3 separate regions of the Homo sapiens genome follow, and all the other regions are linked to region 2. The links come from fine-mapping of genetic effects on gene expression. A gene starts in region 2. Each other region holds a variant in brackets. All regions are shown on one strand. Distances are from middle to middle.

Region 1 (4,239 bases), 930 kb before region 2:
TTGTGAGGAAGACATGGGACATGTGGACGATATCCTCACAATATTTCTGCAATAATGAAACAACATGATTCTGGGACTTGCTTCAAATATTCAGCGTGGGGGAGTGGGTAGGAGTATAGCGAAAACCAGATGGGCCATGAGTTGATAATTGTTGGACTGGGTGATGGAGACTGCTTTGTTATATGTTTCCCTTTACTGTGGTGTACATTTAACATTTTTCCATAATAAAAAAAGAATTTAAACCCAGCAATAAATCCTTTCCAACAATTGCTTTTTAAAATGCTCCTTTTAATAAACTTGCTTTTAAGTTCAATTGACAGGTGGTTTTTATCATAACTCCTCCCTCATATTTTTGGCCTTTGTATCTACTGTCCTTATTTATTAACTTATTTTTAACAGTTTTATTGAGATAGAATTTACATACAATTCATTTTTTTTTTTTTTTTGAGACAGGGTCTCACTCTGTCACCCAGGCTGGAGTGCAATGGTACGATCTCAGCTCACTACAACCTCTGCCTTCCGGGTTCAAGGGATTCTCCTGCCTCAGCCTCCTGAGTAGCTGGGTCTACAGGCACCTGCCACGACGCCCAGCTAATTTTTGTACTTTTAGTAGAGACGGGGTTTCACCCTATTGGCCGGGCTGGTCTCAAACGCCTGACTTTATGATCTGCCCACCTTGCCCTCCCAAAGTGCTGGGATTACAGGCGTAAGCCACAGCACCTGGCCTACAATTCATCTTTAAGTGTGCAATTCAATGGTTTCTTGTAGTTGTGCAACCATCACTACAATCTAATTTCGGAATGTTTTCATCACTCTCAAAAGAAACCCCATCCCCATCTCTACCCATGCTCCTTTCCCCACCCCCACCCCCAGCCCTAGACAACTACTAATCTACTTTCTGTCTCTATGCACTCCCCTATTCTGTATATATCATACAGATCATCATACAATATGTTTTTTATGACGAGCTTCTTCCACTTAACATGATGTCTTCAAGCTTCATCCATGCTACAGCATGTATCAGTTCTTTATAACTTTTTACAGCTAAAGAATATTCCATTATTTTGATATACATTTTGTTTAGACAACCATCAATTGATGGACATTTGCATTGCTTCCAGGTTTGGGGTATTATGAATTATGTTGTTAAGAATCTTCATGTTGCTGGGCGCGGTGGCTCACGCCTGTAATCCCAGCACTTTGGGAGGCGGAGGCAGGCGGATCACGAGGTCAGGAGATCAAGACCATCCTGGCTAACACGGTGAAACCCCGTCTCTACTAAAAATACAAAAAATTAGCCGGGTGTGGTGGCGGGCGCCTGTAGTCCCAGCTACTCGGGAGGTTGAGGCAGGAGAATGGCGTGAACCCAGGAGGTGGAGCTTGCAATGAGCCGAGATCGCGCCACTGCACTCAAGCCTGGGCAACACAGTGAGACTCCGTCTCAAAAAAAAAAAAAAAAAAAAAAAAAGAGAGAATCTTCATGTTTCTATGAAGTTTCTATGTGTATGTATATTTTTGTGTCTCTGGGGTATATATACCTAGGAGTAGAATTGCTGGGTTAAATGGCAATTCTATGCTTAATATTTTGAGGAACTGCCAAACTGTTTTCCAAAGTGGCTGTGGTATCTTACATTTTTGCCAGCAATATATAAGGACTGCAACTTCTCCACAGCCTCACTGACACTTGTTATTATCTGTCTTTTATTTTATCCTCACTAGTGGGTGTGGACTGGTATTTCATTGTGGCTTTAATTTGCAT[T/C]TTCCCAGTGATAATAAATTTAATCATCTTTTCATAAGCTTATTGGTCATTTGTATATCTTCTTTAAAGGAGTGTCTATTCAAATTCTTTGTCCATCCTTCAGTTGGGTTGTCCTTTTTTTTTTTTTTTTTTTAGATGAAGTCTTGCTCTGTCACCCAGGCTGAAGCGCAGTGATGCAATCTTGGCCCACTGCGACCTCTCAGCCTCCCGGGTTCAAGCGACTCTCTTGCCTCAGCCTCCAGGCAGCTGGAATTACAGGCACATGCCACCACGCCCAGCTACTTTTTGTATTTTTTTAGTAGAGACGGGGTTTCACCATGTTGGCCAGACTGGTCTTAAACTCCTGACCTCAGGTATCTGTCCACCTTGGCCTCCCAAAGTGCTGGGATTACAGGCATGAGACACCGTGCCTGGCCCATTGTCTTTTCATGATCAAAACCACAAATAGAAAGGGCATTGTAAAAAATCCCACAGCTAACATCATACTTGATGGTGAATGAATGCTTTCCCCCTAAAATTAGCAACAAGACAAGATGTCTGCTCTCATTGCATCTATTAATTATTGTACTGGACATTCTAGCCAGGGCAATTACATAAGGGGGAAAAGGCATCCAGTTTAGAAAGGAAGACATAAAATTTTATTCTACTTTCAGATGTCTTGATCCTGTATATTATAAATGGCATGGAATCCACTAAAAATTGTTAGAATTAATAAACAAGCTTAGCAAAGCTGTGGGATATAAGATCAACATACAAAAATTTATCTCTATGAAGTGTCAATGAAAAATCAGAAAATAAAATTAAGCAAACAATTCATTTTACAATAGCATCAAAAAGGATAAAATACTTAGGAATAAATTTACAGAAGTACAAAACTTATGCTGTGAAGACTTGAAAACACTGTTGAAATATTAAAGAAGACCGAAATAAAAGGAAAGTCATTGCATTTTCATGGACTGATAGACTTAATATTATCAATGTAGCAATACTCCCCAAACTAATCTACAGGTTTAAAGCAATTCCTATAAAACTCCCAGCTGGGGCCGGGCGCAGTGGCTCAGGCCTGTAATCCCAGCACTTTGGGGGGCTGAGGTGGGCAGATCACGAGGTCAGCAGATCCAGACCATCCTGGCTAACACGGTGAAACCCCGTCTCTACTAAAAATACAAAAAACTAGCCAGGCGTGGTGGTGGACGCCTGTAGTCTCAGCTACTCGGGAGGCTGAGGCAGGAGAACGGCCGTGAACTCAGGAGGCGGAGCTTGCAGTGAGCCGAGATCACCACTGCACTCCAGCCTGGACGACAGAGCAAAACTCCGTCTAAAAAAAAAAAAAAAAAAAATCCCAGCTGGTTTCTTTTTAGTTGGCTGACCCTAAAATTCATGTGGAAATATAAGCAACCCAGAACAGCCAAGACAACTTTGACAAATAACAAAATTGGAAAACTCACAATTCCTGATTTTAAAACTTACTATAAGGTCACAATAATCAAGACAGTGTGGCGTTGGCATAAGGATAGACAGATAAGTCAATGGAACAGATTAAGAGGACAGAAATAAACCCTTACATTTATAGTCAGTTGACTTATTACAATGGAACCAAAATAGTTTGATGTGACAATATAATCTTTTCAATAAGTGGTCACGTGAAAACAATGAGTTTGGACTCCTTCATCACATCATATGCAAACAATAACTAAAAGTGGATCACAGACCTAAGGATAAGAACTAAAACTATAAACTTCTTAGAAGAAAACATTGGAATAAATATTTGTGACTTTGGGTAAAGCAAGGCCTTGTTACATATGATGTCAAAAAATATAAATGACTAAAGAAAAACAATAGATACATTGGACTTCATCAGAATTAAACACTTGTGTTTCAAAGGACACTATCAAGAAAGTTAAAAGACAAGCAACTGAATGGGAGGAAATATTTGCAAATCATATGTGATAAAGGGCTTATATCCAGAATATCTAAAGAATACAACCCAATAGTAAAAAGACAAATAAACCGGCAGGGCACGGTGGCTCATGCCTGTAATCCTAGCACTTTGGGAGGCAGAGGTGGATGGATCATTTGAGATCAGGGGTTCAAGACCACTACACCTGGCCTAAATCCTGGGTTTTAAATCTGGATAATGTCCATGCATGAAAGAGCCTGACCACCTGTGTTGGACCCCCAGGTCCATTATACCTAGCTGTGTGACCTCAGGCAAATTACTCAACCTCTCTCTGCTTTTGTTATCTCATCTATAAAATGGGGATAAATATAGTAGTACCACTTTTAGGGATGTTTGAGGAGTAAATGAGTTAACGCATATAAAGAAGAGCATAATAAGGAGTCTAATACTAGCCACTATCATCATCATCACTATAGGTCATTTGGATATAACAGATACAGCCCTGGTACAAACATTGTCCTGTTTCACTGTCGTAGGTCCAGCACCTAAAAGAGTGTGTGTGGCATATTGCAGGCGCTTA
Region 2 (4,239 bases):
GGTAGAAAATGGTAGCCTCAAGCCCTCAGTTGACAAGTGTGGCCAGAGAGAACCCCACTCTCAATCCTTTGTAGACCAGGTCATTCCCGCCAGGCTCTGTGCTAACGGAGGAGAGTAGGTTATTAGTCCCATTTAAGAGCCAGAGAAATTAAGGCAGTGGAGAGTAGCAGGGCTACTGGTTTAAAAACACTGGCTCTGTGCCTGAATCCCAGCCTTGTCATTTGCTAGCTGTGGGACCGCAGGCAAGTGCCTTGATTTCTCTATGTCTGTGGATAATGATGGTATCTACCTCAAAGCTATGTAAAGAATTAAGGAAACAATAGCCCAACACCACACCTGCAGGAAGGAAGCAAGTTTATTATTACTCAATAAACATTGGTGGATCCTGATGACATTCTCTCAGTCAGCTTTAGCAGTCTTAAGAGACTGCAGAGGATGGAGAACCCAAGGTTAGAGCCAGATTTCTTCTCTACCCAGTTCCTCGGGGCCAAAACCCTGACACCATGCTTAACTCCTCTTTTATACGCCATAGTCCGTCAGCAAACCTTGTCTTCAGTATGCGTCCAGGAGTCCAACCATTCCTGCCACCTCCACCGTATTACTTTCATCCAGACTGCCATCAGCTGTCACCTAGATTATTGCAAAAGCCTCCTTGCTGGCTTTGGGGCTTCCATCCTCTCTCTCTCGCCAATCCCCAGTCAACTCCCAACAGGCAGCAAAGCTTAGGTTACTTCTCAGTTCAAAACCCTTCTAGGTGTGCTAGAATTAACTGATTTATTTACTCAATGATTATTTATTATTGAGTGTCTACTATGTGCCAGGTACTGTTGTAGGCATTGCAGATAAAATGGAGAACAAAACAGACAAAAATTTCTGCATTCATGAAGCTTCCGTTCTCATGGAGGGAGATGGTTAACAAACAAGTGTATGAGTAAAACATATGGTAGGTTAGGTGTCATGTGGAAAAATAGTTTAGGGAAGGCGGGGGGCCTTGGATTTTAAGTAGGGTGGTCAAGGAGGTCTAACACACAAGATAAGGGTTAAATAAAAGGCCAAACGTAGGAGAGGTGGGAGCCAAAGAGCTACCCAGAAGAAGAGCATTCTAGATAAAGGCTCAGTAAGTGCAACGGTGGAAGTATTCCTGGTGAGTCTGGGACAATAGTGGAAAGTCAAAGTGTGTGGGAGGGGAGATATAGAGCCCCATGCCCCCCTCCCACACACTTCAGAGGGGAAAAGGGGGCAGGATTGAGTCCTGTACATTCCCCACGTTTTTTTTTTCTCTGGAGATTGGAAGCCATTGGAGGGTCTAAGCAGAGGAGTGATGAGTTAAGCTGCTGTGTGGAAGTCCGTAAGGAACAGGGGTGAGTCAGAGACCCTGAATGGAGCCGTTGCAATTATCCAGATGAGATAGAGTGCCTTGGATCAGGAAGGGAGGTAGCAACAGAAGCGGCCAATAAAGTTCAAAGTCCTCAGCCCCAGTCCTCCCGATGGGGGTCTCACCTACCCCTCTCACCTCACCTTGTTCCTCCCTGCATCCCCACCCCACCGGTCACTGCTAGGCACATAGAAGCATCTACTAAGCATGTGGTGAATCAATGAACCCCTTAATGAATGGTCCACCCCTAGATCATCAGCATCCTTTTTAACGCTAGGCATATAGTCTGAACTCAACACATGTTTACAGATGGAATGCTGCACAGTCCTGCCAAGTCCAGGCGGTTATTCCTCTCCACAGCCGAAGGAAACTAAGGCTCGGGTGGGGAAGTGTCCCCCTGGGGTCTCTCCGCTTAGGCTGCAGGCTGGGCATCCTTTTTCAAACTCTTTTAGCACAGCGAAGTCGAGGGCACTGGGTGGAGGGTGCTTGCTTGCCCTCAGGGTGAGTCACAGTGACCTCAGAGGAGTTTCCCCAAAACGTCCCCGCCCTGTGATGGGGAAAAGCCGGAATCTCTCGGTCCCAGGTGGTCATGTGGCCCAGGCCGGACAAGCGTCCCGAAAGCCCCGGGAGAGACTAAGAAGCAATCCTCCCACGCGCTTTCTCCCACCCTCGGGCCACTGAGACGGAGGGACAGAGGGCCGCCCTCGCGCGGCCGAGGCCCCGCCTCCCGCTCGCCCGCCCGCGCCTCCAGCGGAAGCCGGAAGCAAAAGCGGGTCCTGCTAGCCCCGCGGCTCCGAACTCGGTGGTCCTGGAAGCTCCGCAGGATGGGGGAGAAGATGGCGGAAGAGGAGTGAGTGGGCTTTTTCCCGGGCGGCGGAGGCGGCGGGGCTGGGCCCCGGCGGGTGACAGCGAGCGCCTCAGGCCGCCCTCCGGCCCCGGAAGGCGGAGCTTCTTTTGCTGGTTGGCCAGGACTGACCAAGCCGGTGCCTACGAGGAGGGCGGGATGGGCGGGCCTGGGCCCAGGTGGGCCTTGCTTTCCCCTGGAGATCGGTCCCTCGAGCTGGGAATCTACTGCCCAGCGCAGGCCCGGAGAGCTGTCTTGCGGAAAATACAAACCATATTTACTTTCCCAGTTTTCGGTAATCTCATGGTTACTGAGCCCTCTTCCGCCTCCTCCAGGAAGTCGTCCGGGTTCTCCACACCCACCTCCTACGTAGCCAGTCGCCTCCTGTATAACGATCAGTTTTCATGTCTTTCTCCTTCACTAAGTTTCATTTAGTCATTAACTGTTAGCCATCTACTCAATTCCAGGCCCTGGGCAGGTGGTAGGAAAGGAGGCCGACCAGGAGCCGCTCTCTGGGAGCTTCCATTCTAGTGGGAAAAGAAGACCATAATTAGTCAAGGTGGTTTCAGATCGTGATTAATTAACGTTATTTGTGCCTAGTGTTCCATTATTGGAACGCTAAGCATGTGGGAGTTATTTATATCCTACTGCTCAAGGTCATCGCCAAGGTCTGATTTTTCTCACGTCTGCAGTTCTAAAAATTGCAACCTCTGGCATGAATGGGTTAAGTGTTCTGAAGGAAGCAAAATAGAGTTAAGGTTGGGGAGTCCACTCAGGAAAAAGTGACATTCAGCAGAAACTTGAATGACCAGAATGAGGGATAGGAGAAATAACATCAGGTTCAAAAGGCCTGGCTCAAGAAAGAGTTTAGTGCTTTTGAGTGACAGGCAGCATGGCTGGTGTGTAGAGAGGAAGGGGGTTAGCTGGACAAGGGGAGATGGGGAAGGACGGGCTGTGTCCTCCAGGTACTTTTGGGCAAGTCCAAAAGTCATCTCCATACCTGCAGGGCAGAGTCTGTTGCAGATTGTAGATGCCCTATCACTGTTTGTGGAATGAGTATGTGAAGATGAATAAGGAACCCCTTCATTGATACTGGAGTCCTTCACCTGATAACTTTTCAAATATATTTCTTGGCCATGTGGGGGTCATTTCATGTAATCAGTTATTTATTGAGCAGCTGCTCCATCCCAGACACTAAACAGCCTCAGCAGCACAAAATAAAAGAGGCAATATAGCCCAGCGATTTCAAGTTTGGGTTTTCAGCTTGATTCTGCCACTAACTGAGATGTTGGTGAAGTTTTGCAACCTCCCTGAGCCTTAGTTATGCATGAGTAAAAAACGGAAAGTAATCATACCCAATCAGACATGTTATACCTATTAAATGAGAGGTAGTGTGTTACCTAGTTCCTGGAATAAAGCAGTGCTCAGAAAATAATAACTTTTGTAGTCACAGTAACAGTTATTATAGCAATATTGTACTAGTTCACAATCCCAGCACAGTGTGAAAGAGCTGTGGGAACATACGCAGTGGAGTGGGTAAATTCGGGTGTGGTAAGATGGGGTAATAGGAGGTGACATTTGAGCCGTTTGAAATCTGAGAGGGATTTTGTAAAGTAGGGTAGGGCATGCCCAGATCAACAACTGGGCAAATTGAGGTGGCTTCTTCAACTTGCAGAAATAATGCCAGGAAAATAATGTAAATTGGAGAAACAAAGGTGCTAAGTAAACAGTGTTGGACCTTGGAAAGTGATGAGACTCCAGTTTGCCTCCCTTTAAATCCCCCAGTATTTGCCAAAGAGCAGGCAGCATTTCATTTCTATACTAGCTCTGATTCCCTACCGTTCTTGTCCTCTAAGTGGCTGTATTCAAAAGCACCAGAGGCCACTGGTACCCTTGTGCTGTGCAGGCAGGGATTTTCTTAGTAAGTTTCTCTCGAAGGCCTGCCTGTTAAAGACTTCTGAATCCCATAAAGTTCTTGGACAGCTTCTCTTTCTGGTGTGAGGTGTGTGAATTGATGTTT
Region 3 (4,239 bases), 210 kb after region 2:
CTATCTTCAGTTCTTTGGAGATATACCCAGGAGTGGAATTACTGGATCATATGGTAATTCTGTTTAATTTATTGAGGAACTACCACCTAAGCACTTCAAATATATAAATAGAGATGGGATCTCACTATGTTGCTCAGGCTGGTCTTGAACGCCTGGGCTCAAGCGATCTTCCTTCCGTCTCAGCCTTCAAAGTGTTGGGATTGCAGGTGTGAACCATTGTGCTCAGCTGACCTAAGCACCTTTTAAAGCACTCATGATCCTGGGGAACGCTCACAACAAGGCAATGAGGGAGGCTCTGTGCTGCCCCCATTCTGCAGATGAGGAAACTGAGGCTCAGAAAGCAGAATTCATGAGCCAAGGTTACACTGGTGAGAAATGATGATGTCAGGCCTGTTGGATTCCAAACCAACTTGAACCTAAAGCTGAGAAGGAAGAGTGTGAGAAAAAAGAGAGATTATGAGAGCAGTAACAAGGGTGACTTCGGTCCACACTTAGCCTCTTGAGTTGCCATCTGTGGAAAAGGTGAGGAAAGAGGTAAAAGTCAGTGTTTCTCTATCAAACTTGCATGGATTCCCACCCCCTCCTGCTCCGTCCTGGCTGAGTGAGGTTGGGCAAGCTGGTTCACCTCTCTGTGCCTCAGTTTCCCCAGTGAATGGTGCTAAGGAGAAAAACTCCCTCAAATGGTGAGGATAAGAATGAAATAAGGCCAGGCGTGGTGGCTCATGCCTGTAATCCCAGCACTTTGGGAGGCCGAGGCGGATGGATCACTTGAGGTCAGGAGTTCAAGGCGAGCCTGGCCAACATGATGAAACTCTGTCTCTACTAAAAATACAAAAATTAGCTGGGCATGGTGGCAGGTACCTGTAATCCCAGCTACTTGGGAGGCTGAGACAGGAGAATCACTTGAACCTGGAGGCGGAGGTTGCAGTGAGCCAAGATCATAGCCGCTGCACTCCAGCCGGAGAGGCAGAGCAAGACTCTACCTCAAAAAAAAAAAAAAAAAAAAAAAATTTAATAAGGCTGGCCTGCTGCTATGGTTATCAATGTTGTTATTATCCTTTTCTACACAAGGGTCCCCCCAGCCCCAGAATCCCATGCTCTTGTTTCGGGTGCAGCTCTGGGGCAAAAGGGAGTCAGGGACCCCCAGAATCTTCTCCCCAGGGTTGGAAATGTTGGGTGGCCCAGAAGTAGAAGTAGTGTCTACTTCAAAAGTCCCATGTCCATGCTACAACTGAATGTTCCAGATCAGAAAACAGCACATAGTTTTCCAGAAATGCTGGGACCTTATCTCCTCAGGAGTGAGAGTAGCCTGGACCCATTAATTCACCAGAAACACATTGTATTTTAGGCCAGAAACAATAATAACTGTGGCCTGTTAAGTGGATGTCAGAGAATAAAAATCTAATCTGAATTTGTAACTCTGTCAGAAGGAATGGGGTGACCGAGAATTCCACAGGCGAGTTTTCAACATGGACACAGGGTGGGGGGTCCCTGAGCCTCTCTGCTGAGGTTTTGCACAGATCAGGGCTTGTGGAGAACAATGGGGACATTCTTTGAGCACTTGCTGTGTGCCAAGGCACAAAACAACCCTGGGAGGCTGTACTGTTAGAAGTTCCGTTGTTCAGATGGGAAACTGAGGCCCAGAGAGGTGGAGACGGTTGCCCAGAGTTGAACAGCTAAGAAGCGGCTGAGATGGGGCTTGAACCCAGACAGTCAGGATCTGACTGGAGCCCAAACTCTGAACCACGTGTGTCTTTCTCAGGGAAGTCTGGAAAAATGTGGTTTAGTGTTCTGCACAATGAAGTAACTTGTTCAACTGAGGTCACTGGCTGATGGTGGGAGTCACTGATGGAGGAAATGGGGAGAGGGCCCAGGACCCCCCAGGAAGTGTCCCCTGTCTCCTTTGCTGGGTATTTTCCTTCCCTGACTCTTGGCCTGTTTCTTTCTTGGTGAGTGTATGTGGGGTGGGGTTAGTGAGAAAGGGAGACCCCAGCTCTGGCGTTGCGGGAGTGTTAGGATCCAAGGCCAGGCCTGCAGCCCTGGGTCCCTCCTGCCTGGGAGGTACCTGGGGAAGTCTGCAGCCTGTCTACACTGGTGAAGCCTCAGCCCCAACCAGCCCCCTGCCCTGCACTTGCCAACTGGGCACCGCCACTGTCGGCACCACATCCCCAGGGTGTGTAACAAGTGTCACAGCCTCACCCAGCCTCAGTTTCCTCCCCTGGAAAATGGGGATAGCCACGACACGTGGTGGGGAAGGTTATATTTACATGACCTGGG[C/T]TGTTACTCTTATTCCTGCCTCCAGTAAGAAGCCACGTGGAGTGTCTGCCATGCTGAGGAGAGGGCACCCCTGGCCGGAGCCCAGCTGGATGTCAGGCCTGAGGCTGGATGTCAGGCCAAAGCTGGCTCCAGCCCAGCAGCCTGACACGAAGGGGAGGGAGGCCTGAGTCGGCCAGACTCCTGAGTCACTGTTTCCCGGCTCTGCCAGGCCAGGCGGGAAAAGGGGGAGCGGGGCGGAGGGAGGGGAAGGGGATAATCTGGGGGAGGGAGGGAGTGGAGAGTGAGACACCAGTTGTAACCATTGTTGGGTGGGACAGACAGAAAGCCACCTGCCAGGGGGGCAAGGAGATTCTGGGGTGTCAGAGTGGGGTCCTTGCACTTCCCTGCATTATAGGCTGCAAACTCCTCCCTCCCTCGCCACCAACACATACACACACACACACACACACACACACACACACACACACACACACACTGCACTCAGCTTCACAGCTTTCCTTCTCTTTCTTGAGTGTGTTGACCAGGTTCCAGCCTCAGGGCCTTTGCACTGGCTGTGTTTTCTGCCTGGAACACTTCAAGGTTCTTTCTCAAATCTCAGGCTTCAGCTTAAATGTCACCTCTTCAGTGAAGCTGTCCAGGCTGGAGTGCAGTGGTGCCATCATGGCTCACTGCAGCCCCAACCTCCCCGGGCTCTGGTGATCCTCCCACGTCAGCCCCTCGAGTAGCTGGGACCGCAGGCGTGCACCATCATGCCCTGCTAATTTTTGTATTTTTCTGTAGAGATGGGGTTTTGCTGTGTTGCCCAGGCTGGTCTCGAACTCCTGAGCTCAAGTGATCCACCAGCCTTGGCCTCCCAAAGTGCTGCGATTGCAAGCCTGAGCCACCACACTGGGGCCTGCCTGAGCTTTCTTTTTCTTGAGACAGAGTCTCGCTTTGTCGCCCAGGCCAGAGTGCAGTGGTGCAATCTCGGCTCACTACAAGCTCCGCCTCCCAGGTTCACCACCCGGGTTCACACCATTCTCCTGTCTCAGCCTCCCAAGTAGCTGGGACTATAGGCACCCGCCACCATGCCCGGCTAATTTTTTGTATTTTTTTAGTAGAGACGGGGTTTCACTGTGTTAGCCAGGATGGTCTCCATCTCCTGACCTCGTGATCCGCCCGCCTCAGCCTCCCAAAATGCTGGGATTACAGGCGTGAGCCACCACGCCCGGCACCTGCCTGAGCTTTAAGTGTGCTCTTCCTACTCCCCCTCCCAATTCCTTTAGTTCATCCATTCATTCATTTATTTGCCCGGAAGGTATTGCGCACCTCCTTCGGGCAGGGCCCTGCTTTAAACAGTGAACAGAGTAGACAACCTGCCTGCCCTCATGGAGCCATCACTCCACCCAAGGAGATGGCACAATGAGCACACCGCACACTGGGCTGGAACAGGTGTCTCTGGAGGAGCCAGGCACAGGTGGGGGAGCCAGGCGCAGCTGGGGGAGTCAGGACATAGCGCGGGGGCTTTCCCTGTTGGAGGGGGTTGAGTACGGTGTCTCAGAAAGTGATGCCAGGGAGATCTGCAGGACGAATCGAAGGAAGCCATGTGGGTGTCTGCGGAGAGAGAGTTCCAGGCAGAGGGAACAGCCAGTGTGAAGGCCCTGAGGCAGGGGTGTGGTGGGCAGAGTCAAGGAGCAGGCAGGAGGCCAGTCGGGTGGGAGCAGAGTGGGCGAGGCCAGGAGGTGAGGCCAGCAAGGGGACGGGGCGGGCAGGTGGGGCAGGCAATGAGGAGGATGTGGCTTTTGCCTTGAGCCCCTGGAGGGTCCTGAGCAGAGGGGCTGCAGAGACATGGTCAAGTTCCAGGTGGGGTTAGGGCGAGAACTGACCTTCCAGGCAGACAGGCAGGGTCCCCCCACCTTGCCCCTGCCCTGAGATGAAGCGCCAGCCTTGGATCAGGACCCTGTCCAGAGGTGGGCCAGGGCT

Direction of the effects. Alleles are on the strand shown, and positions count from the first base shown. SD is a standard deviation of normalised expression in the study named. Not every link is listed here.
As copies of T replace C in region 1, the expression in Th17 cells of the gene that starts at base 2,105 in region 2 goes down (large effect, 0.85 SD a copy in Schmiedel 2018).

What was found. PIP is the estimated chance that this variant, and not a neighbour inherited with it, causes the effect. A credible set is the group of variants that fine-mapping cannot tell apart.
Region 1: its variant is the best candidate, but not a certain one, in a credible set for the expression of SLC9A8 in Th17 cells (Schmiedel 2018, PIP 0.86).
Region 3: its variant is the best candidate, but not a certain one, in a credible set for the expression of SLC9A8 in whole blood (TOPMed, PIP 0.90).

Annotation. Positions count from the first base shown.
Region 1 is chr20:48,881,059-48,885,297 of GRCh38, forward strand. It overlaps a transcript of PREX1 not described here. Among named protein-coding and RNA genes, the nearest start is that of ARFGEF2, 39 kb to the right of the region's middle. The variant T/C (reference allele first, on the strand shown) is at 1,760.
Region 2 is chr20:49,810,724-49,814,962 of GRCh38, forward strand. SLC9A8 (solute carrier family 9 member A8) reads left to right here and starts at 2,105. Exons shown (of 16, transcript NM_015266.3): 1 at 2,105-2,225. The coding sequence starts at 2,200. RefSeq lists an enhancer at 1,784-1,923 and a silencer at 2,074-2,353.
Region 3 is chr20:50,025,572-50,029,810 of GRCh38, forward strand. SCREEM1 (SNAI1 cis-regulatory eRNA expressed in monocytes 1) reads right to left here. Exons shown (of 3, transcript XR_936829.1): 2 at 4,143-4,239; 3 at 3,520-3,870. Among named protein-coding and RNA genes, the nearest start is that of SCREEM1, 2.8 kb to the right of the region's middle. RefSeq lists enhancers at 1,767-2,606, 2,607-3,444. The variant C/T (reference allele first, on the strand shown) is at 2,278.